Linked DNA regions of Homo sapiens. The protein of the gene in region 4 purifies or fractionates together with the protein of the main gene of each other region. This does not show direct contact. Each region holds a gene or a part of one and is shown on either strand. Other genes may lie near its edges.

What was found.
Region 1: the proteins of DEF6 (region 4) and RBM45 purify together in Homo sapiens (affinity purification with mass spectrometry; 3 studies listed by BioGRID and IntAct, with this or other methods). This does not show direct contact.
Region 2: the proteins of DEF6 (region 4) and TNRC6C purify together in Homo sapiens (affinity purification with mass spectrometry; 2 studies listed by BioGRID and IntAct, with this or other methods). This does not show direct contact.
Region 3: the proteins of DEF6 (region 4) and ANKS1A purify together in Homo sapiens (affinity purification with mass spectrometry; 3 studies listed by BioGRID and IntAct, with this or other methods). This does not show direct contact.
Region 5: the proteins of DEF6 (region 4) and PRKCQ purify together in Homo sapiens (affinity purification with mass spectrometry; 3 studies listed by BioGRID and IntAct, with this or other methods). This does not show direct contact.
Region 6: the proteins of DEF6 (region 4) and ADD2 purify together in Homo sapiens (affinity purification with mass spectrometry; 3 studies listed by BioGRID and IntAct, with this or other methods). This does not show direct contact.
Region 7: the proteins of DEF6 (region 4) and CHAMP1 purify together in Homo sapiens (affinity purification with mass spectrometry; 3 studies listed by BioGRID and IntAct, with this or other methods). This does not show direct contact.

Annotation. Positions count from the first base shown.
Region 1 is NC_000002.12:178,122,437-178,125,936, reverse strand, and holds part of RBM45 (RNA-binding protein 45), read right to left. Parts: intron 2,416-3,500; coding exon 2,286-2,415; intron 2,110-2,285; coding exon 2,025-2,109; intron 1,811-2,024; coding exon 1,647-1,810; intron 1-1,646. UniProt on the Homo sapiens protein: RNA-binding protein with binding specificity for poly(C). May play an important role in neural development.
Region 2 is NC_000017.11:78,049,203-78,052,702, reverse strand, and holds part of TNRC6C (trinucleotide repeat-containing gene 6C protein), read right to left. Parts: coding exon 1,255-3,500; coding exon of another isoform or gene 1,246-1,254; intron 1-1,245. UniProt on the Homo sapiens protein: Plays a role in RNA-mediated gene silencing by micro-RNAs (miRNAs). Required for miRNA-dependent translational repression of complementary mRNAs by argonaute family proteins.
Region 3 is NC_000006.12:34,888,059-34,892,054, reverse strand, and holds the start of ANKS1A (ankyrin repeat and SAM domain-containing protein 1A), read right to left. Parts: upstream 2,801-3,996; 5' UTR 2,653-2,800; coding exon 2,456-2,652; intron 1-2,455. UniProt on the Homo sapiens protein: Regulator of different signaling pathways. Regulates EPHA8 receptor tyrosine kinase signaling to control cell migration and neurite retraction.
Region 4 is NC_000006.12:35,304,318-35,307,817, reverse strand, and holds part of DEF6 (differentially expressed in FDCP 6 homolog), read right to left. Parts: intron 1-3,500.
Region 5 is NC_000010.11:6,573,777-6,577,276, forward strand, and holds part of PRKCQ (protein kinase C theta type), read right to left. Parts: intron 1-3,500. UniProt on the Homo sapiens protein: Calcium-independent, phospholipid- and diacylglycerol (DAG)-dependent serine/threonine-protein kinase that mediates non-redundant functions in T-cell receptor (TCR) signaling, including T-cells activation, proliferation, differentiation and survival, by mediating activation of multiple transcription factors such as NF-kappa-B, JUN, NFATC1 and NFATC2.
Region 6 is NC_000002.12:70,677,701-70,681,200, reverse strand, and holds part of ADD2 (beta-adducin), read left to right. Parts: intron 1-498; exon of another isoform or gene 499-1,728; intron 1,729-2,239; coding exon 2,240-2,497; intron 2,498-3,018; exon of another isoform or gene 3,019-3,184; intron 3,185-3,323; coding exon 3,324-3,443; intron 3,444-3,500. UniProt on the Homo sapiens protein: Membrane-cytoskeleton-associated protein that promotes the assembly of the spectrin-actin network. Binds to the erythrocyte membrane receptor SLC2A1/GLUT1 and may therefore provide a link between the spectrin cytoskeleton to the plasma membrane.
Region 7 is NC_000013.11:114,324,503-114,327,822, forward strand, and holds the end of CHAMP1 (chromosome alignment-maintaining phosphoprotein 1), read left to right. Parts: coding exon 1-1,779; 3' UTR 1,780-2,820; downstream 2,821-3,320. UniProt on the Homo sapiens protein: Required for proper alignment of chromosomes at metaphase and their accurate segregation during mitosis. Involved in the maintenance of spindle microtubules attachment to the kinetochore during sister chromatid biorientation.

The DNA.
Region 1 (3,500 bases), on a different chromosome or scaffold from region 4:
TGCTCAGGTCTAAAATTTGGAGTCCATTCTTGACTCCATTTTCACCCTTCTCCCCAGATCCAACATCCAACTCATGTCAATCTTAAACATCTCAGTCAATTCTATTCATTCTCATTCAGATCTCTCTTCTCATTCAGACCATCATCTTTTCCTTAATCTAACTCCTTTTTCACTAGTTTCCTTACCCCTGAGCTTGTCCCTCTTCAATCCATTTTTCACTCTGTCTTCTGAGTGATCTTTCTAAAACATAAATATGATCATTTACTCCCTAAAAGTCCCCTCAGCAGCTCCCCATTGCCTCCATGGTGACAACAAATTCCTTAATATAGCTCTAGAGCCGTTCTGACATTGTCCTTGGACTCTTTAGTTTCATCTTCCTTAACAATCTCTCAAATTCCCTATTTAACAGCCCTTCTTTTACATTCTCTATGGCAGAAATAACCATGCATACCCCCAGCTTTCACCTGTGGAGAAATTATTTTTATACTTCAGGTCTCCACATACACCTTCCTTCTTTCAAGGCTTCTCAGAGTTTCTAAGGTAACTGCTCCTCCTTTGTATCTTACACATTCCTTATCACAGCAACAATCACCCTGGGTTGTAATTTTCTGTTTACTTGTCTGTTTCCTACATGAGATCAGCTCTAAGAGGACAAGAATCATAATGTCTTGTCCATTTAATATTTTGTTTACATGTCTCTTGTACTTAGCACAGTTCCTGCCTTGAACAAAGAGGAGGTTCAAGAAGAAAACTAAATATATCAGTTAAATAAAGGTCAAAATACTTGAACCATATCCTGATATTTTTTTCCTTTTGAGCCTCAATATACTATCACATTATGTCCCTGATATTTTGTGCAGCTCTTTAACAAGCTTCCTGTCTATCAAATTCACTAACATTCTTGTAAGGCAAATGGGAAAAAGGCCTAAAAGAAAAAGCAAAGAAAGGAGTTATGTTAAAAACACAAAAATAAATAAGAACCTTCCCTTTTTTATTATAAAAAACATTTATGTATTTTTCCCTACAATCAAGTAATTGTTTACACAATGCGACTGCATAACCCTTAAGGATCCTACAATGCACCAACAAAACAGAAGATGCTTAGCAAAAAAAACACAAAAAACAAAAAGGGTCTCACTCTGTCACCCAGGCTGGAGTACAGTAGCACAATCTTGGCTCACTGCAACCTCGACCTCCTGGGCAAAAGCAATCCTGCCACCTTAGCCTCCCAAGTATCTGCGACCACAGGCATGTACCACCATGCCTGGCTAATTCTTGTATTTTTTGTAGAGATGGGGTTTTGCCATATTGCCCAGTCTGGTCTTGAACTCCTGAGCTCAAGCGATCCCCTGACCTCGGCCTCCCAAAGTGTTGGGATTACAGGCATGAGCCACTGCACCAGGCCCACTTTATGTTTCAAAAACAAAATAGCAGGAAATTCTCTATGGAGCCTTAGGATGTGTGACTGATAAACAAGAGAAGAAAATAATCAGAAATTGAAAAAGATGATACAAATAAGGAGGTTTTAAAAGCAGAGAACTAATACTCTCTACTTGATAGGTACTGGGTGAAGGAAGTGTCTAGATTATAAGAATAATTAAATTACTAGTGTAAATAAAATATAACAAAAAATGTAACTTTCTTACCAGAATATATCTTCTAATACGTCTAAAGGTAAAGGATGAGGATTAAACACAATAAAAAGTCTTTCTTTCACAGGAGTTTCAGCAGGAGCTTTTTTTTTGCATGATGGAAGTACAACATCTGTCTGGATTTGAGGCAACTGTGATCCAGAGCTTCCTCCAAATTGCTGTTAACAGGTAGAAAACAAGAAAAAGAAAAAAATGCCCTTTAGGGATTTTTGGCCAAGAGCTAAAGACAGATATGTATCATGGCATCTATGTGGTCTTCCACAATAGCTCTGAAAATTTTCATACACAGATAATCAACAAAGCATGATTTCTCTTCACATTTATTTTATATGCTATTGATATATTATAAAGGTTAAATTCTTACCTACTTACCATAAATTGTTGCTGACTTGGGTTATTCCACACCATTGATGCAAGCTGTGCAGCTACCATCTGTGTTGCCATTTTTCTAAGGAGACTGGAAAAAATAACTGATAATTTACAGAAAACTAAAAATATTCAGTCTTTTAACAGTAGCTTGTTTTGTGTGACTTTCTCACCTGAGAGGTCAATTGTTTCTATTTTTATTCTTCAAGTCCTATCAATCATGTACACTCAAAGCTCGGCTTTAGACACTCCTGGAATGGTACTTACTCTGTTGCATTACTTCCATCATCAATGAAGGAAACACCTATTCGGTTCCCAGGAGGGTACTGAAATCCATGTAATTTGTATTTTGCATAAATAGCTGATGCTACATTAAAATACTGAACCACTCCATGACCTAAAATAGAGAACATACAGAAATGAAAAAGGAAAGCAGACTGAGTGCCTAAGGCCTATGTTACAATCTATCACAAAAATGAAACCATGTAGAACTCTAATATCACACAACTAGTAAATACAGAATCGAATGTATCAGAAAACACAGTTCTGTTATCATGTGTGCAACAGGTGTATTCCTAGAAAAGGAAGAAATAATTTAGGGAAAAATATGAACATGATATTTTAGGGAAAATGGAATATTAACATACGTCCTGTCTAATAAGTTTAGTTTTAGGATACTAGCTTTTCTTATATGATACCAATATACTTAAAAGTCTAAATTTTTATTCTTTGAAATCTACTTTGAAATTTTAAGATTTTCCCAACCATACTGGGTAGGAAATGAAATGAGAAGTGATAGTTGAAAAGAATATATACTCATCCCGGCTATCTGCAGCAGTAGGGAGAGGAAAAGTGATTTGAATGAAAAACAAAAAGATAGGGAACAGAGGATCTCAGATCACAAGTGATATATTTTACTTTCCTTTGGAGAGATTTCTGCCAAAGGGACGAATTTCAATTTAGGAGGGTGATGTTGAAGGGAGGGACAATGTTATAATGCATTCCTTAGAGAGCCCAGGAGTTTGTGACACAACTAAAAGGTTTTCACTTTTATAATACAAACCACTGGGGAAACACTTATAATTTATGTTCATCTGGAAACCCAAGCATCCAACATTTTAATGAAATTAAAATAAAACACAGAAATCAAATGACCATATAAAGTTAATTCAAATGAGATTCGAACTATATGATGACACCTCTATTAATAAAAAGATGTTCCAATGACACATATATTTCAGACACATCCAACCAGAGAAACAAAACAGGAGGTACAGGAACAAATACATTTTGACATACCAGATAAAAGGGAGGGAACAAAACAAAATGAACACAACTTCATATGCATATAACAAATGTGCCAGAGAACACAAAAATGTGTGCCTAGAAGTCTTAGAACAGAGAATGACGCATATGATCGGGTTAAGACTGGGGATGGCTCAAAGACAGTTCTACAAAAAGACTAGTGCTGGGTTGGGTACT
Region 2 (3,500 bases), on a different chromosome or scaffold from region 4:
CCTGTAGGGCAGTCATAATTGAATTAATGCAGCAGGCAGGACATTCTCCTGTTGAACGCTTATGACAAAAACCAAAAAGGTGCCCAAATGCCCAGGCTGCCCTACACAAGATGGTGATTCCCCAACTCCAGTGGCCCCCGCATGCAGACCTTCTGGGCTTACTGTTTCCTCCCTGCACCATCACTGCCCAACACTACGTATATACTTTAATTCGTGTGTTGTTTGCCACCCTCACTAGATCTAGACCCCTCCATGGCAGGGTTTTGACTGTTTTGCTTCCTGCAGTTTCCCCAGCTACTAGAGTACAGCCTAGTACATGGCAGGTCCCAATAAATTCACTGTGTATGGTGATCTCTGGGCCCTGACATTGCCCAGCAACCCTCCAGGGGCCCCAGTCAAGTCAGTTCTCTGTTCCTGTCCTCTACATGGGCTAATGCATGCTCCCTCTCTACTCGTGCTGCTGCTCCTAGCCAGCCCTCCTCCACTCTGGGCTAGTATTCACACTCCCAGAGAGAAAAGAACCCCAGAAGGTGGCCTTGGCCCTCTGGCCATGACAGCCTGGCCCACCTGTGCAGCGCTCTTTCCTGCTCCTTGCTTCACGAGATGGATGAAGTGCCCTTGTCCTGCTGGACACAGGGATCTCTTCCCTCTTCATTCATTCTCATCTCCACTTGTTCCTTTCTAACAGCTCTGAAACATGCTCACGACTTTGCCACCTTAAAATCTCTCTACTCTGGACCTTGCCCCTCTGGCTGAGAACTGGTCTTCCGTATCTGGGACCTTTTATTGTCCTCACTGGACACTTGGAGCTCTGTGCCTCCTGCTGTGCTCATGGGCATGTCAGTGAACTGACACAGTCATCTGCCAACTTGCCCAAGTTCTGAACCATGTCTATCCTATCTTCTTTGCTCCTGTATCCAAATGGTTACGAAATCTTGGAATCATGCACTGTCATTGCTTTCAAATCCATCATCTCCACCCCAGGCCACCACCGCCACCACCAAAACATTCGCTTGATGTTCTACTGAGTGTGCTTAATATATTTTTTTCTTGAATAGAAAACCACCAGAGGATCCTACTTTGCTCTCACTGGATAATCTTTAGATACAATATTGCACGGTGATAGGGAACTTAAATTATTTTAATGCTATTTGCTATAAAAAACACTACTCGGAGTATTCATGAATATATAATGAGAATAAGCTTTTTTTTTTTTTTTTTTACTTGTAAAGAAACATGAAATACCTTTCCTACCTGGACCAAGCAACGGTGATCGATTCAGCTGAGTACCGGCCTGGTGCGGGGGCGGCGTCTCGACCCTGTGTGTGGTGTTGCTCGTGGTAGTGGTGGTGGTGGTGGTGGTATTGGTCGTGGTACTGCTCTGGATGACCGGGTTGTTTCTATCCCACATGTTTACAGTTTTATTGTTATAGTTGCTTGGGTCCCCCCAAGCTGAGGTACCATCATCAATTTCCATTTTGCGGCGAATGGACGGTGGAGAGGGTTCTTCCCAGCCAGTTGCTTCACTGCTGTCCTTCTGTTTGACCGGTACCGGCCCCCCGATCCACCCTGTTCCTGTCTGTTTCACAGAAGCAGCTCCTCCCCAGTTACTCACATTGTTGTCTTGGGGTTTGCTAGCCCAGTTCTGTTGGGGGCCAGGTTTTAAAGTCTCCCCCCAGTTTGTACCTGGATTGGCCTTTGTATTTGTGCTGTTGCCCCAGCCACTGTTCCCAGATCTCGTGGTGTCATTCCAACCAGACCCTGACCTATTACTGTCAGCATCCCATCCAGATCCATTTTTTTTCCCATCCCCCAAGTGTCCAAGGACAGACGATGAATCTGCCCAATCTCCCCCTCCTGCACTCCAGGCTGGATTTGATCTTTGTCCATCTCCCCAGTGTTGGGATTTGGGCTTTGGAGGCTCACCCCAGGTGGGTGACTTGTCCTCCTGATTTGCGGCCCCACTCCAAGCATGGCCACTCTTGGCAGCAGCAGCAGTACTAACAGCAGTAGAGCTTATCGAGTCCCCCCAAACCCCCGGGCCACTTGGCGCTTTGTTGTTGCTGTCTCCCCAACCTGTGTTTGCTGGCACAGCGGCAGGTGGCGCGTTGACCCACCCAGATACTGAAGAGGTATTTGTACTGTTCATGATGGACCCATCGTTCTTCCCCCCTGAGTTTGAAGCCTGAGTAGCTGCACAACCCCAGGCCTCTGTCCCATTGTCATTTTTCCTTTCAGACCTAGGGGATTCTTCAAATTCCCAGGCAGTGTTTTGCTTTACAGGAGTCTGTCCCCAACCAGTATTAGACAGAACTCTTGGGTCAAGATCATTCCTTGGCAACTGGATGTGCCCTTGGTCTATAATCCCTTTATCTCGCCTTCGGCCTTCTCCCGTTCCTTCCCTCCCAGTGCTTCCTTCATTGTGGTTGCCAGAACCATCACTACTTCCTTCACTTGCTGTAGTTCCAGAAGATGCCGCTTTGGCCCAGGAGTTCATGTGTTCACCACCAGGCTGTACGGTAGGGTTCTGGCTGGTGACACTAGGACTCTCCCACCCTGTTGATCCTTTCCCATTGATGTCACTGTTGGAATGCTGGTTTGGGGGCTTTCCCCATTCCCCATTCACACCGTTAGAGGTGCTTCGGCTGGGGTGGCCCCAAGCTCCTGAATGGATATTACCAACGCCATTGTTGCCACTGCCCCTTCCCCAGGCGAGTATTCCAGGACCAGCAGGAGGTCCTGAATCCCAAGCATTTCCTCCACTTCCTTCCTTTTGCACAGCACTGCTGGATCCATTTTGTTTAGCACTTAATGCTGAGTTCACAGTGTCTCCATTCCCCTGACTGAACCCAGAATTGCTATTTCCTGTGGCAGGGTTACCTGGGGACAGTCCCCACACAGAATTGCTTATTCCTTCAGCACTGCCCCCACTGACTTGAGAAACTGATGATCCATTAGCACCAGGAAGGCCTTGCAGGTGGGGCGGGATGATGGCCCCCATACCAACAGCCATGCCCCAGTTTGGCAGTCCATTTGTCTGCATTGCATTGATAGGGTTGGGTGAAGAGTTCATGGGGTTAGTGTTATTTGGTCCATCAGTGTTAAGGTTCTGAGGTTGTGCGCTGAAAGACACATTCTGAGAAGTGGACGTTTGTGGTTCTGTGCTCTCTTGTGGCAGCAAGTTTCCCCAAGCACCTAAAGTGCCTGTTGGGTTCCCGTTCTGGTTGCCCATATTTTGACCTATGGCACTGACTGGACTGCAAATACTGGAAGGGTTGCCTGTCGCCACGGTTCCTTCATGTCCAAGTACAGGCCAGGCAGCTGGGTTGGCATTAGGATTAAGGTTAAGATTAATGCCAGCATTGGAGTTGGAAGCACCCCAGCAATTCTGACTTCTCCCATCTCCAATCATAGTGTCCATTTTTCCATCCCCACCACTGACAGAGCAGTGAGCCAGGCCAGAGCTGGAGCCTGTGGCTACACCCCACACTCTGGCCGCA
Region 3 (3,996 bases), 420 kb from region 4:
CCAAAGTAGAAGCATTGTGCTCAACAGGTTTCCTAGTCTTGCTTAACTATATTAACTATATGGCAGTTAAATCCTCAGCAGAATTTCAATAGTCTCCGAGTGAGCGCACTAAGAATAACTTGACCTGAGGCCGGGCAAGGTGGCTCACGCCTGTAATCCCAGCACTTTGGGAGGCCGAGGCCGGCGGATCATGAGGTCAAGAAATTGAGAACAGCCTGGCTAACATGGTGAAACTCCATCTCTACAAAAAATACAAAAATTAGCTGGGTGTGGTGGCGCTTGCCTGTAGTCCCAGCTACTTGGGAGGCTGAGGCAGGAGAATCGCTTGAACCCAGGAAGGCGAAGGTTGCAGTGAGCTGAGATACTGCCACTGCACTCCAGACTGTGGACAGAGCGAGACTCCGTCTCCAAAAAAAAAAAAGAATAATTTGACCTGTGTTTGAGGGTGGGAGATATGAGAAACTTCTCACTTTAGCAGGATATGCTGAGGGTTAAGATATCTCTGGAAAATCTCCAAATGCTATGTCATCAACTCATTAAAGACAGAGGCATCTCCAAACCTGTACAGTCTTGTCACCTCTCAGACATCAGAACTGCAGAGTGGCAAATCCAGGTAAGATTCAAAACCCAATTCATGCATTCACTGTACATTTATTAAACACCTGTAAGTTGTCAGGCACTGATCTAGGGACTGAGAATATAAACATGATATATGGAAGTATACCCATCCATTATTATTTACCTTTATTATGCCCAACCTCTCAAGGGTGCAGGCAGGAAGTTCTTCTCCTGTTGCCTAAGGAGCACCAAATAAGTCTCCATTCTCATTTCTGTGCCTCTGATCATGGGGTACCCACCTGAAACATGCCCATCATAACTCACCTACCCAAATCCTCACATCCTTCAAGGCCAGCTTAAGTCTCCCTCCTTTTGGAAGCCCTGACTTCCACTCCATCCCTAAATGATGTCTCTGTTCTCTGAGCTGCTAGCAATTACAGCGAGTAATACCATCCACCATCCATTTATTTAGAAATTTATTGTCCTGCAACTGATACTTTTATTTCTTCAACAAATCTTAAGTACCTACTTATATTGCTTTTTAAAATCTTCCTGTAAAGACCTGGGTTGGTACTCAGTGCTTAATATCTATTAATAACAATTTATTAGCGCCTTAGGCTTATATGGTCCAAGCTCACTCAAACTGAAGTTACATAAAGTAATGGGGAACAAAAGCTAACGAAGGCATTTCTAAATGAACTTCCACTTCTTAAAAACCTCAAAAGAACAAGGAAGGAAAAAGAAATCAGGCTATGAAAGCGCTGCTGAACTAACACATTTAACTCACACTAACAAAGCACCCCCAATCCCCCTTCGAAGCCACACAAAACTGATGTTTTTCCCTCGGTCCTTACAGCTCCAGATTGAAGCGTTTAACAACAGACCTTGGAAAAGTTTACAGCATCCTTCGGTTTCCTAAACAAGTCTCTCTGCCTTTATTTCTAGATGAATAAGCCCCTGGATGAATCCTGCATATGCCACTTAGACTAATCCAATGAGGTTCACTACAAGGAACTACAATTTGAACTTCAAGCACAAGAGAGGCTCAAAGACGAACATCTTGAAAATGATACATCCAGAGGCAATTTTAATAAAACAAAAGCGAGGGGCCAGGCGCGGTGGCTCACGCCTGTAATCCCAGCACTTTGGGAAGCCGAGGCGGGCGGTTCCTGAGGTCAAGAGTTCGAGACCAGCCTGGCCAATATGGTGAAACCCCGTCTCTACTAAAAATACAAAAATTAGCCTGGTGTCGTGGCGGGCGCCTGTAATCCCAGCTACTTGGGAGGCAGAGGCAGGAGAATCGCTTGAACCCGGGAGGCGGAGGTTGCAGTGAGCCGAGATCGCGCCACTGCACTCCAGCCTGGCTGACAGAACAAGTCTCCGTCTCGAGGGAAAAAAAAAAATAAAGCGAGGTCCTGTGTAGCCTGGTGGAAGGTTCCAAGTTCCTCAGAGAAGAAAATCAATAGAATTTCCTCCAGAGGAGCCTCGAGATTCTACAAGGCGTAGGAGTTTCTGCAGGAGGTGAGGGAGATCTCATATATATATATATAAGATATACATATTTGCTCTTAATTGGCTTTTGTGAGCTACGATAGCTGGCACCCTGTAGCGAGCGAGAGTGAACCCTGGCTGTGCCATGCGGCGGAGGCTGCCACCTGGGCACTCCCACCATTCTTCGCAGCCGGGTCAGAACGGGAGACCAGGCGAGCCCGGAGCAGCGTGGACTCGGACCTGCGCGCCCTCCGGTACCCTGGCCCGCGGGCCGCCTGCCTCGCCCCGGGCACGCCACAAGCCCACCCCGCCCGAGTCTCAGGACCCCCGATCTCTCTGGGGACCCAAGAGACGGGTGGGGGAGAAAGGGTCTGCAGGCAGCGGCCCGGCCCTGGCGCGTACCCACCTGAGCAGACTGGAGAGGGGGTGGCTGGAAGAGCCGAGGCCGCCGCCGCCGCCGCCGCTGCCGCCGCCGCCGCCCCCAGAGCCACCGCCGCCGCCGCCCCCAAAGCCTGAGGAGAGCCGCTTCCCGGACAGCAGCTTCTCCACCGCCGGGAGGTGCCCGGTGCGGGCCGCCTCCAGCAGCTCCTGCTCCTTCCCCATCCCCAGGGCCGCCACCCGCTGGACCCCCTCCCCGAGGCTGCAGCCGAGCCTGCTCGGGCTCCCAAACTTTCCGTCTCCGGGCAACGCACCCCCCAAACCGGCTGGGGACACCACCCCCTCCCTGCCTTTTCCCCACGAGCGCGTCACTTCCGGGATCCGGCGTCACGCGTCACCGCGCCCCCGCGCCCCGCCCCCTAGCTCACCTAGCTGGGCGGGGCTCCGCGGACCAGCGCAGGTGGACTTTGCTGTGCCGAGACACGCCTCTCGGGGCATGGGGACAGCGCCTTGTGGGCCCCCATTATGCAGGTGGAAAGGGACAAACAGGCCCACCTGTACGCGCCTCCCGAAGTGCGCTCCTTCCCCAAAGGTTTTGGGAGCTCCTGGGACAGGAAATACGGTAATTCGTCCAGGCAGCGTAGAAACAAAGAGATAAATGTAACGCGCACCTACATTTCCAAGTCCATTCTTTCAGCACGCATAAATTAAATATGTAATAGGTGCGGGGACCTAGTCATACCCAGGTGAATAAAACGCCCTCCCCCTCGTATCTCAATGAGGGAAGAGAAGAAAATTTTAAAACAGAAATATCCTCACCACTTCATCCTCCCAGTACGTGAACTAGTTCATTAAAGTGAAACGTTCAAAGGAGACACCTTCCTCTCTTTAGGCTTTCCTCTTAGTTTTAATGAGATTAACCAAACTGATAGAAAAGTGTCAGACTTGTAAAAACAAACCTCAATCTTCAGTACTGGCGAACTGAAAAAAATCATTTAATTGGGTAGAAACTATGTGTGTTTTGTTCCCTGGTACTAGCACTGTTTCTAAATCGAAGTAGGCAGTCAATAGTTGTGGATGAATAAATGAATTGGATAAATTCTGCTCGAGCTATATGACTTTTTGTTGTTAAGGTGCTTGCGGAATGGAGGGGAAATGCTAGCAATTCTATGTACACACAGGCCCGCGGTTTCGGGCCAGTTGAAATATACAAGGTTGAGTCCTTGCCTGAAAGTTTACCAGTCCCGGGGAGCCTCATTCCACGACACCGCCATACAACGGAACTGAGTTTTCTCCCAGTCCCCCAACTTTACTCTGAGGGGTTAACGAAGGGATTAACTGACATTGCATTTTTAGACAGGCGAAAAGGAAAAAGTTATTTAGTAAACAAAACTGCGCTCCTTCACAAGTGCTGGTTTCCTAGCGAGGAGGATCCATAGTCTGAGCTCTTTACGTCCAATTTTCCCGCTTCCCACTGTCGCCAAACCAAAGTTAAAATGAGTCCTCTAGTCCTCTACGCGCGCCTCAAAATGACCCCTCAGGAGAGCGGTAGGGGTGATGTCATCGCTG
Region 4 (3,500 bases):
TTGAGACTTTGCCTCAGTGTCCTCCTGGGGCTCAGTTTTCCTTGGCAAACTGGGAAGTGGGAGATCCCAGGAAGGGAGTATTTCCTTTTTTTCCCTCATTTCCCTCTGGGCAGTTATCCCTGGAGTTTTTGGTTATGTGAGCCAATAAATCCCCTCTCCCTTAAGCCATTTGAGTTTGGTTTTATCACTAATTCCAGGAAAGTCTTGCCTAACACATCTGTGGTCATAGAATACCAATCCCCACTCTAAGGGGTGCCACTGGCTCAATGCCTAGCACTTAAAACCCAGGGTGACCACCTCAAGAGAATAATGCCAACATCCACTGACCACTTCTGAAGTGACAAGTGTTCAAGTTTTATATATTCTCATCTGCTGTCTCTTGGCCTCTTTTCAAACTACCCGTGTCCTTATCTTTTTTTGAGACGCGTTCCAAATCTGCCGCCCAGGCTAGAGCGCAGTGGCGCGGTGTTGGCTCACTGCAACCTCCGCCTCCCAGGTTCACGTGATTCTCCTGCCTCAGCCTCCTGAGTAGCTGGGATTGCTGACGCGTGCCACTATGCTCGGCTAATTTTTGTATTTTTAGTAGAGATGGAATTTCGCTATGTTGGCCAGGCTGGTCTCAAACTCCTGACCTCAGGAGATCTGCCCGCCTCGGCCTCCCAAAATGCTGGGATTACAGGGCGTGAGCCACTGCGCCCGGCCACCCCAGCATTTCTAATCATCCAACCTACAGACACTCATGGGAGAGATACAAGAATGCTCATTAAGCATTGTTTATAATATGAAAAAATGGAGACAAACTGAGGCTCTTCCAGTAGGAAACAGGTATACCATGTCAGGAACCACTGTATGTAGCTGGAAAGATTTCACTTTTCCCACTTGTGTGCTCATGGGCAAATGTTTAATTCTCCAACACCTTAGTCTCCTCCTCTGTGAGGATAATGATAGGGTCTGCTCCAAAGGCTGTTTTGAGTGAAGAGTACCTGGTGCATAGTGCACTGCTTAATAAAAGTTGTGGGTGATCTTTGTTATGTTTATATGAACAGACATTGAAAGATATGCATACTACACTGGCATGTAAAAAAAGCAAGCTACAGAATGAAATGTTTGTCAAATACATGTGCAAAGATTAGGTCGAATTATATGAAACTAGTATTTCAGTAGGTCAAAACAATCAAGTGTCAGAAATTTCATATGGTTCAACCTGTTTATTTGTATACAGAAAGAATCTAGAAGACTCACAAACTGTTAACAGTGATCACCTCTCCAGAGTGAGGGGAGAAACTTTCATCTTTTTTTTTTTTTTAAGACAGAATTTCACTCTTGTTGCCCAGGCTGGAGTGCAATGGCGTGATCTCGGCTCACCGCAACCTCTGCCTCTCGGGTTCAGGTGCTTCTCCTTCCTCGGCTTCCCGAAGAGCTGAGATTACAGGCGCCCGCCACCATGCCTGGCTAATTTTTGTATTTTTAGTAGAGACGGGGTTTTGCCATGTTGACCAGGCTGGTCTCAAACTCCTGACCTCAGGTGTTCCGCCCGCCTCGGCCTCCCAAAGTGCTGGGGTTACAGGCATGAGCCACCGCGCCCGGCCAACATTATATTCTTCTTTACTTCAAAATTTTTTTGGGCCGGGTGCAGGGGCTCACGCCTGTAATCCCAGCACTTTGGGAGGCCGAGGCAGGTGGATCACCTGAGGTCAGGAGTTCGAGACCCACCTGACCAACATGTTGAAACCCTGTCTCTACTAAAAATACTAAAAATTAGCCAGGCATTGTGGCAGGCGCCTATAATCCCAGCTACTTGGGAGGCTGAGGCAGGAGAATCAGTTGAACCCAGGAGGCAGAGGTTGCAGTGAGCCGAGATTGTGCCATTGCACCCCAGCCTGGGCAACAAGAGTGAAACTCCATCTAAAAATTAAAACAAAAACAAAAACAAAAAAACAAATTTGGCCAGGCGCAGTGGTTCACACCTGTAATCCCAGCACTTTGGGAGGCCCAGGTGGGCGGATCACTTGAGGTCAGGAGTTCAACACCAGCCTGGCCAGCATGGCGAAACCTCATCTCTACTAAAAATACAAAAATTAGCTGGGTGTGATGGCAGGCGGCTGTAATCCCAGTTACAGGGAGGCTGAGGCAGGAGAATTGCTTGAACCTGGGAGGTGGCGGTTGAGGTGAGCCAGGAAGGATAGTGCCACTGCACTCCAGCCTGGGTGGCAGAGTGAGACTCTGTCACACACACACATACACACACACACCCCCACAAAAAAAAAATTACCACTAACATGTTTTAATTTTATAATAAATTCATTTTTATTTTTGTTTATTTATTTAGAGACGGGGTCTCACTCTGTTGCCTAAGCTGGGGTGCAGTGTCACGATTTCTGCTCACTGCAGCTTCCGCCTCCCAGGCTCAAGCGATCCTCCCACTTCAACCTCCCGAGTAATTGGGACTACAGGCATGTGTCACCATGCTCAGCTAAGTTAAAAAATTTTTTTGTAATACCAAAATTAGCCGGGTGTGGCGGCACACTCCTGTAGTCCCAGCTACTCAGGAGGCTGAGGTGGGAGAATTGCTTGAGCCCAGGAAGTCAAGGCTGCAGTGAGCTGAGATCGTGCCACTGAACTCCAGCCTGAGTGACAGATCCAGACCCTGTCTGGAAAAAAAAAAAAAAAATTCTTTTTTTTCATAGAGATGAGTTCCCATTATATTGCCCAGGCCATGGTGGCTCATACCTGTAATCCCAATGCTTTAGGAGGCCGAGGCAGGAAGAGCCCTCCTGGGCTCAAGAGATCCTCCTGCCTCGGCCTCCTAAAGTGTTGGGATTACAAGTATGAGCTACCACAGCGCAGCCCCGAATTTCTTCATTAACATTATATTCTTCTGTGTGTTTTCTTTTTTTAAACCAGGAGAATATATTGTCTTTAGGATAAAATTTAAAACAATAGGGATGAAAAAGGGTGCCATTAACCCAGTTATTAATTTGCCCTATTAAGTTGCTCTATAATAATATTCTTTTGCTGTTCACTGTTTGTGTGAGCATTTCTGGGTGTTCTACATTCCTTGAGGGCAGCAATGACTCTAATCTCAACCTTGACTCCAAAGATAGTATAATGTCCCCCATTCACTGAATGTTTCTGACTGACTCCTAAAGTCTAACTCAAATGCTCCAATGGTTTCCCATAATTTTCAGAGTAAAAGTTCGAGTCCTTCCACAGGCCTCCAGGCCCCATGTGACCTGGCCTGCTGCACCTTCTCTGACCTCATCCCTCTTGTTTACTTGCCTCCAGCCATTCTGCCTTCTTAATGTTCCTCCAGCAGGTCAGGCATATTCTTGCCCAAGGGCCTTTGCACTTACTGTTCCTGCAGCCTGGAATATTTCTCTCCAGGTCACTGCATGGCTCAAACCCTTTCCTCCTCCCTGTTTTTACTTAGATGACACCTTCTCAGGGAATATATATTCCCTGACCAGGTGGAATATCCTCTGATCACCTTATCTTTTGAG
Region 5 (3,500 bases), on a different chromosome or scaffold from region 4:
ACCCAAAAGATGTGTTCTTGATATCAGCTAACACTCCAGTTAAAGGCGAAAAGAGCTAGGCCAGGTGTGGTGGCTCATGTCTTTAATCTCAGCACTCTGGGAGGCCAAGGCGGGCAGATCACTTGAGCCCAGGAGTTAGAGACTAGCCTGGGCAACATGACAAAACACCATCTCTACAAAGTGCACAAACTAGCCAGGCCATGGTGGCATGCAACTGTAGTCCCAGCTACTCAGGAGGCTGAGGCCGGAGGATCCCTTGAGCCTCAGAGGCGGAGGCTGCTGTGAGCTGAGATCGTGCCACTGCACTCCAGCCTGGGCGACAGAGCAAGACCCCGTAAAAAAAAATGCAAAGAGCCAAAGAGCAGACCCCTGGCTGTCTTGTTGTCTTTCCCTCCTAGTTGTTCATGAATTAAGTGCCCAGTGAGGAGACAGCTGCCAACGTATAGGTGAGTTTGCAGTGCAAGCCGAGTGCTGTGAGTTCATGGGCAGGTAAAACTCTCTGAAACGCTGGAGAGAACCTGAATGGCACTTGTATACATTGGTAGATAAAGCATTTAAAGGGTTCCTCCTGTTCTTAGAAAAGGATCAAACTCCTTCGTATGACTTAACGCAGGACAACTCTACGGGACAGTCTGCCCAGGACAATCTGGGTTTGTACCTGTTACCCAAGCTTAGTGATTAATAACGTGCTCTTTCACTCTATAAACAGTCCCCATCTGGAGGATAACGTATATGGTTCACCTGCTTACAGGTCCTATGTGATCTGGCACAGCTGACTCCTCCAGCTCCACCCAGCAATAGCCCACACACTGGCACATGCTCCTTTCTCGCAGCATCACTGCTATCAGAGATCACAATTTTCTTCACTTTGCAAATGGAGAGAATGACACTCCAAGAAGTTCACTGGTTAAGGTCATATGGCAAATTAGGATGGGGAGCAGAGGTTTAAATGGAAGCTGTGATGCTTACTCTGCTCATTTCCACTCATCTGCAAGGCTTAGACTGGACTGCACTGGGATTCCAGACTCACATGCTGCAGGGACATTCTACAAACACTGTTCCTACCTCCCAGAACCCCCATCTGGCTCACTGCCACTTCCCCTTCAGGTCTCAGTTGAGCCGTCACTGACAGCTCTGCGACACCCCAAATCTAGCTGTGCACATAATACCAAGTGTGTCCCCTACTGAAACACACAATCATTCTGCACATATTTGTTCACAACTTGGTATGTGTCAGGCCCTGTTAGAGTGGCTGGGGACACATGTAGGGACAAAATGCCAGCCCTCATGGAGTTTCATGCTAGAGGAAAAAAGAGACAGAAAGGAAACTAGCAAATATAAAACAGAGTTGCATGACATTATAAACTGATACAAAATAGTACAAATATCTCATGAATTCATCACAATTCATTATAATTTCCTATTTGCCTGACCACATCTCCCTGTGGGTTTTGCAGCACGGTGTGTGATCTGAGGCTTGCAACAAAGGCCTGGTGAATTCAATAGCAGTTTCCCTTTCCATTCTCTCCATTGTCCTGGGAACTTGTCCTGCTCTGATAACATACAAAAGATAATTATATCTGTAACTAATCTTCTAAAAAGCATCTGTCCCACACATTCAGGGTTATTAACACTGATGCCATGTTCACTTTATTCTCAACAACTACTCATTTCTGAATCATAAGGTTCCTCATGGAGGTGGAGATAACCCTACCTACCGGGACATTCTGTTTATGTTTTAGGGACTGTCCTTTCCATGGCTTCCCTAGTCCCTCAGGTGCTGTGTGAGTTGTATTTCCTCCATTAATTCTACACTAGAAAAAGGTGTATATGCTCAAGCTGGGATAGGAAATAAACAATGAACTCAGGAGTAGCATCAGCCCAGAGATCCCTGCCATTGGGCATTCAATGATTGGGTAAAAAGTTAACTATCAGCACCTTACACCAATTAGAAAGGCTACTATAAAGAAGATTTTTAAAAAAGCCCAGGTGCGGTGGCTCACGCCTGTAATCTCAGCACTTTGGGAGGCCAAGGTGGGTGGATCATGAGGTCAAGAGATCGAGACCATCTTGGCCAACATGGTGAAACCCCATCTCTACTAAAAATACAAAAGTTAGCTGGGTGTGGCAGCGCGTGCCTATAGTCCCAGCTACTCAGGAGGCTGAGGCAGGAGAATTGCTTGAACCTGGGAGGTAGAGGTTGCAGTGAGCTGAGATCATGCCACTGCACTCCAGCCTGGCGACACAGCGAGACTCCATCTCAAAAAACACAAAACAAAAGACAGCGTTGCTGAGAATGTGGAATAATTGGGACCCTTTCTACCACTGGTGGGAATGTAAAACGGTCCAGCCACTGTGGAAAACAATATGGCAGTTCCTCAAAAAATTAAACATAGAATTACCCTACGACCCCACAATTCTACTGCTGGGTACATACCCCAAAGAATTGAAAGCAGGACCTCAAACAGATATCTGCGTGTTCCTCTTCACGGCAGCATTATTCACAATAATCAAAAGATAGAAGCAACCATCAACAGATACAAGGATAAGCAAAATGTGGTATATCCATAAATGGAATAGTATTCAGACTTAAAAAGGAAGGAAGTCCTGTCCAATGCTGTCACATGGATACAGCTTGAGAACACTATGCTAAGTGAAATAAGACAGTTACAAAAGGATGGATACTGTATTCTGCTTCTGTGAGGTCCCTAGAGCAGTCAGAATCTTAGAGACAGGAAGTAGAAGGGTGGCTGCCAGGGGCTGAGAGGAAAGACGGATGAGGAACGAATGTTCCACGAGGACAGAGTTTCAGTTTTAGGAGATGAGAAGAATCCTGTGGATGGATGATGGCAATGGTTGCAAAACAATGTGAATATACTTAATGTCACTGAACTGTACGCTAGAAAATAGTTAAGAAGTTAAATTTTAAGTTATGTGTATTTTAACCACAATAAAAAAGTTAACTGGTAGGTCACCTGGGACTGCGGTTTAAAGCAAATGCTTGATGGTTAGACTAATCTGGATGGTCCAACTAACCTGACTCTACCACTGACTGGTTATAAGACCTGGACAAGGGGCTCTACCCCTTGAGCCTCAGTTTCCTCATCTGAAAAACTGGAATAATAATAATATCTAATTTATAAAGGCTTTTGGAGGTTAAATGAAGCAGTAATGCCTCTTACATATAAATAAAATTCTGAGTATGATATACAGCACATAAATTCTAAATAATAAAGACTCAAAACCATATTTCATTGGTTTTGTTGATGCTGATTATTATTATTATAATTAATACTATTAGCTTAATTCAAAAGCTAACATCAACCTACAGCAACCTGCAGAAAGATGTCCTGCCAAATACTTGCTAATTTAATCCAGGAGCAAAAATCTATGATTCTGGGCTTGAGTGAGCTTTCCTAATTTTAAAACTCTGATGCTCATTTTGTCCCCAAGAATGTGTTTAGATGACAGAGCAATCAGAATTTGACATGTATAAATGC
Region 6 (3,500 bases), on a different chromosome or scaffold from region 4:
GAAAGCCTGAAAAGATACCTCCAAAGGCCAATTTTAGGTTCTATAATAGTGATATTATTTACAGGAGTAATTGGGGAAGTTGCAAATCGTGTGACCTCTGGAATAATAGCTGGTAATTATTTAACTATGCCTACATTTTAGTAAAATTCAGGCCCCTTTCCTCTTCCTAACTTGGTGGTCTTTCATCAGTTTTACAAGGATAGTTTAGTTTTTGGGAAGGGCTATCGTCATTTACACTATAAACTAAATTTCTCCTGAAGTTAGTTTGGCTCACATCCAGGAATGAGCAAAGCCAGCCAGCTTGTGAGGCTAGAAGCAAGATAGAGTACTGTCATAATTTTGCAAAGGTGATTTCAGTTTAAGGTGGACAATTATGCAAATATATACAAAAATCAGTAGTTTTTGTATCTTAACTACTTTGAAAATATAATAATGGGAGAAAATAATCCTATTTGCAAATGGATCACAATCATAAAACACTAAAAAGCATAATCCGTGTTTTTAAAACCATAAAACTTTATTAATAGACATCAGAGAAAACCTGAAGTCAGTGAAGAGCTATAATTTATTCTTGGTTAGAAAGCTTCAATAGGGTAAAGAGGTTACTTCCCCAAAATTAATCAATAAAGTCAATGGATTTCTTTCAAAAATGGGGGAAGGTATGAGGACTTGACAAAATATCCTTCCATGTGAAATTCAGAATGGCTAGGGCAATGTTATAAAAAGAAAAGTAATTAGGAATACTAATTCCACCTCATGACAAAGTGTGATAAAACTTTGGCAACTAAATGGCGTGGCACTAGCAGAATGGATGTGCAAAACAATGCAACAGCTTAGAGAATCCAGAAATAGATCCAAAATATATGAGAATTTAACACAGGAAAAGCAGGCACTTTATAAATCAGTGAGGGAAAGATAGACTACTTGCCATCTGGGAAGGAAAGCTAAGGCAGATGCTACTTCATTTATTTCAACAAGATAAATTCCTGGTTTGTCAAAATGGTAAACATAAAAAGTGAACTCATAGGGGTATTAAAAAACATAGACTTATGTTTTTGATGCCCTTGTGTTAGGGAAGACTTATCAAGCACGGCACAAAAGGCTGCAATCTTGACAAATATTAATAGATATGATATTAAACAATTCAAAACTTGCATTTCTATAAGCCACTCCCCCACCATAAACAAGGTAAAAGACAAAGTATGGAGGGAAATATTTTCACCATCTATGATAGTGAAAAAATTAATATTCTTAATTTACAAAGAGCTTACAAATCAATGTGAAAAACAGAAACATCAATAGAAAAATGGGCTGAGAACATAAACAATTTACAAAGGAAAATAGTTAAGTAGCCATTATATGTAATTGGAAATATCCATTTTACTAGTATCAAACATATATGGACACACATGTATATGCATAGAGATATGACTGGAAAGGTTTTTAGTGATTGTCTCTGGGGTGAGAGTTTGCATAAAATTCCGTTTTTTCCTTATTTTTTTTAATTTTGCTTAATTTTTCTACATGGATCTGTATTTCCTTTATAATCAGAAAAATAATGTCATTTTAATTTAAAAATAAAAGAAGACAAAGAGAGCTGAATATTGCTCCAACAGCTGCCAAGATTCCAGAATGTTTGTTCTCTCCAAGAAGCAGTCAGCTCCAGCTTTGAGGGGATGTGGCCTTGCTTAGGAGACAGGAATGTTCTTGAGTCTGATTTCAGGGTTCCTAGAAGGAAATTGTTAAGAAGTTTCACAGTCAAGGAAGGGAGGGGTGACTGTTAAATCAGCTGGGAAGCTTTTAAAGATCCTGTAGCCCAGGCCACACTGTGATCTGATTAAATGGGCAACTCTGCATCAGGGCCCAGGCATCAGTGTTTGTGTGAAGCTCCCCCCGTGATTCTAGTGTACAGCCAGGGCTGGGAGCCACTGGACCAGAGGAAATCTGTGGCTCCATTTGGATGAGGAGCTCTGTCTATCTGGTCCACAAAGGTCTAGGGATTTTCTCAGCCCTGATCAGAGGACTTGTTGGGGTAGAGAAAGAGAGGGGATGGGGGACCAGGAGGAGGGAACAGTTCTGAAATATACCAGAAGAGTGGAAAGCCTAGATTGTTTAATGGAGATTTGGGTTTACATGAAGAGTCCTTTAAGCAGACGGAAGGAAAGGTGTGTGTGCATGTATGTGCAGGTACAGGCCTTTTTTCTCACCCCATAAGTGGTTCTATTTTTGTCCTTTATAGGGCTACAGAACAGGTTACACGTATCGCCACCCCTTTGTTCAAGAGAAAACCAAACACAAAAGTGAGGTGGAGATTCCAGCCACGGTCACAGCCTTCGTGTTTGAGGAGGACGGTGCCCCGGTGCCCGCCCTGCGACAGCATGCCCAGAAGCAGCAGAAGGAGAAGACCCGCTGGCTCAATACGCCCAACACCTACCTGCGGGTCAATGTGGCCGATGAGGTCCAGAGGAGCATGGGCAGCCCCCGACCCAAGACCACGGTAAGGGGGAGCCCAGGACAGACCCGGGCAGAGAGGGGCAGGCTGCATTAGCAGGGTGAAGCATTTTTAAAACGGGAACAGAACAAACCTCTCCTGCCCCAGGTTAGTAGCATCCTCTTTGGGCTTCCTATTAGGCCTCTGGGAGCAGCTGCTCAGGCCCACTGAGCCCCTGACCACTTCTTCCTTGCACCTCTGCCTGAGTTTTTGGGTCTAAGGAGCAGATTTCTCCAGAGGGCAGTTGGACCAGGCACATGACCCAGAACCAGTTGGTTTGTGCTTCTTTCTCCCACATCCACAGGGGGCTCTTGGGAAATTCAAGGGAGGAGCATTTAACATTGGGACTTCAGATCTGATGCAAGCCCAGGAGGTGGGCTGTACAGCCACTTCTATGAAGTTATATTTTCTCTCCCTGTCCCCACCCACAGGCTCTCAATTTTTTATTAACATAAAAGTAGCCAACAGCCAAATAGAATAGCTCTTCATAAAACAATATGAAGCTCTCCAAACTCAAATCAAGTTACCTAATACTGAAGCCCAAGTGGTTGCCTGTGTATCAAAGCTGGTTCCCAAGGTTCTGACCCCAACTCTTGGATGTTCTTTATAGCCGACCTTTGGCCTGAGGGCCTTCATTGGTAACTGGGTCATCTGTTGCCATTCTCTGCTCCTGGAGACAGACATCAAAGAGGCCTAAGAAGAGAGAGTGTCTATGAGTAGGCTTGCTGACCTTCCATGCAGGATGTTGGGCCCAGATCTCGTGGGTGGACCACTGGGGAGGACTCATGGGCCTGTTCCCTCACCTCAGCCCCATGACCTTGTGTTTGTGCAGTGGATGAAGGCTGACGAGGTGGAGAAATCCAGCAGTGGCATGCCGATTCGCATCGAAAACCCAAACCAATTTGTGCCTCTCTATACTGACCCCCAGGAAGTACTGGAGATGAGGAACAAGGTAAGTGGGGTCTGTTTATCCCACTCTTTCTTCTCCCACACTGGGGGGTCTCAGGTC
Region 7 (3,320 bases), on a different chromosome or scaffold from region 4:
ACTCTTAGTAATCCCAAACCCCAGAAGCAGTCTCATTTCCCGGAAACATTGGGGCCACCTTCAGCCTCATCTCCAGAGTCACCAGTTCTAGCTGCTTCCCCAGAACCTTGGGGACCATCCCCAGCTGCATCTCCAGAATCTCGGAAGTCAGCCCGGACTACCTCCCCTGAGCCAAGGAAGCCATCCCCTTCAGAGTCTCCTGAACCTTGGAAGCCGTTCCCTGCTGTCTCCCCAGAGCCTAGGAGACCAGCCCCCGCTGTGTCACCAGGCTCTTGGAAACCAGGGCCACCTGGGTCCCCTAGGCCTTGGAAATCCAATCCTTCAGCATCATCAGGACCTTGGAAGCCAGCTAAACCTGCTCCATCTGTGTCTCCTGGACCTTGGAAACCAATTCCTTCTGTATCTCCTGGACCTTGGAAACCAACTCCATCTGTGTCTTCTGCATCCTGGAAATCTTCATCAGTCTCACCCAGCTCCTGGAAGTCTCCCCCTGCATCTCCTGAGTCATGGAAGTCTGGCCCACCAGAACTCCGAAAGACAGCTCCCACGTTGTCTCCTGAACATTGGAAGGCAGTTCCCCCAGTGTCTCCAGAGCTTCGCAAACCCGGCCCACCACTATCCCCAGAGATCCGTAGTCCAGCAGGATCTCCAGAGCTCAGAAAACCCTCAGGGTCACCAGATCTTTGGAAGCTTTCTCCTGATCAGCGGAAAACTTCTCCTGCTTCACTTGATTTCCCTGAGTCCCAGAAAAGTTCCCGTGGTGGTTCTCCTGATCTCTGGAAGTCTTCCTTTTTTATTGAGCCTCAGAAACCTGTCTTCCCTGAGACCCGAAAACCAGGTCCTTCTGGGCCATCTGAGTCCCCCAAAGCAGCCTCAGATATCTGGAAGCCTGTTCTCTCTATCGATACTGAGCCTAGAAAACCTGCCCTGTTTCCCGAGCCTGCCAAAACAGCCCCTCCTGCTTCTCCAGAAGCACGCAAACGTGCCCTTTTTCCAGAGCCCCGGAAGCATGCCCTTTTCCCTGAACTCCCCAAATCTGCTCTATTCTCAGAATCACAGAAGGCTGTTGAGCTTGGTGATGAACTACAAATAGATGCCATAGATGATCAAAAATGTGATATTTTGGTTCAGGAAGAACTTCTAGCTTCACCTAAGAAACTCTTAGAAGATACTTTATTTCCTTCCTCAAAGAAGCTCAAGAAAGACAACCAAGAGAGCTCAGACGCTGAGCTTAGTAGTAGTGAGTACATAAAAACAGATTTGGATGCGATGGATATTAAGGGCCAGGAATCAAGCAGTGATCAAGAGCAGGTTGATGTGGAATCCATTGATTTTAGCAAAGAGAACAAAATGGACATGACTAGTCCAGAGCAGTCTAGAAATGTGCTACAGTTTACTGAAGAAAAAGAAGCTTTTATCTCTGAAGAGGAGATTGCAAAATACATGAAGCGTGGAAAAGGAAAGTATTATTGCAAAATTTGTTGCTGTCGTGCTATGAAAAAAGGTGCTGTTTTGCATCATTTGGTTAATAAGCATAATGTTCATAGCCCTTACAAATGCACAATCTGTGGAAAGGCTTTTCTTTTGGAATCTCTCCTTAAAAATCATGTAGCAGCCCATGGGCAAAGTTTACTTAAATGTCCACGTTGTAATTTTGAATCAAATTTCCCAAGAGGTTTTAAGAAACATTTAACTCATTGTCAAAGCCGGCATAATGAAGAGGCAAATAAAAAGCTAATGGAAGCTCTTGAACCGCCACTGGAGGAGCAGCAAATTTGATAACACAGTGTGAATATTTGTTCTACAAAGGTGTTTGTTGGAACCATTCTTTGTAAGTATAGCTTATCAGATAGCATAGTTGGATCAGTAGATGACATGTATGGTGTACCGTGTTTCACTGTCTCAGTTGTGTTACTAAGAATGAGCATTTGATCATTTTTTTCTGGTCTCTGTCTATGTGACTATCTTGTAAGTCAATAAATTTCTGTATAGTCCAGATGGATTAAACTTCTCATTTCTTTTAAATATGTATGAATAATAATACAAGGAAGTAGGCATTCCATTTAATAATCAAGAGCAAGTTGTACTCAAAGCATTCAGTTAAAGTGTATCTGTGTGTGGAACTAATTTCAGACAATAGAAAATATTAGTTGAAATGTTTAAGAATTAGGCATGAAAAATAAATTTGAGAAATTTTGTTTCCTTACATGTATTTTTAAATCATAAGAGTTATTTTCTATCTGATGTAAAATTAGTTTATAAATCTTAATCAGCTTCTAGATGTTTATTAGCTTTTATGTCATGAAATGTTGGAGTCTCAGGGTTGCTGATTTTCTGCTAATGGGAAAAATTGACTAAGTCTTTAAAATAGTTTGCAGCCTTCTCCCACAGGAGACAAGTGAAAGATAAGTGTGATTTTAGATCTTTCTTGTCCATAGTTGTTTTCAGTGGAGTCTTCCATTCTGTATCTTACCCTAAGATCTGGTTCTTCCCTCCCCATCCCCACCCCCCACCCACCGCCTGCCAGCTCACACTAATAGATGATTCTTAATTGCCAAATGTGTTAGAGTTTGTATATCCTACTCCTGGGCCTTACATGTCGCCTGTTGGGGCTTAAGACCAGGTTGATAAGTAGGAACTGAAAGTCTTCCAGATTCACAGTAGAAAATTTTATAGACATTTCTGTTAAAGAAATATATCGATTTTATGTTTTTCAATTATGTTACTGTAAATACCTTGTACCTGTTCATGGATTATTTTATTCTAAAATATTTTGTCAAATGTGTATCAACCAAATTAAAAAGAAAGGTTTTCATGTCAGCAACATCTTCATGTGTGTTTTCTTTTGTGTAGTTTTCATTGTATGATATACAGATCCATTATTTCCATGTTTTCAACATAGTTTTCTTATCTGGAGCAGCATTTTCTTAGCTGTGTTTTCTCCAAGTTCTGTGGTCAAGTAAGTTAGGGGAATGCGTGTATAGGGAGGACTCTGTGTCAAAAACCTCATCCTTTCATATGAAAGGTTTTTTAATTCCAGTGGTTGCCTATCCTGCCTGCCTCTAAACAGTGTGAGGCATTTAATCTCAAAGCATTCTGATGTGTAGCCAGGATTGAGATGCTGTACTGGGTTTATTTTAGCTATTCCCAGACATTTTTTTAACAAGGAACAGTTTTGTCCTAGTTCCCCACCCGCTGGCTTCCCTATTAATATGCCCGTTGGGATAGCTTAACAATATTTAGTAATATGGTTTGGCTCTGTGTCCACACTCAAATCTCTCTCTTTTTATTTTTGTTTTTTATTTTGAGACCGATCCTTG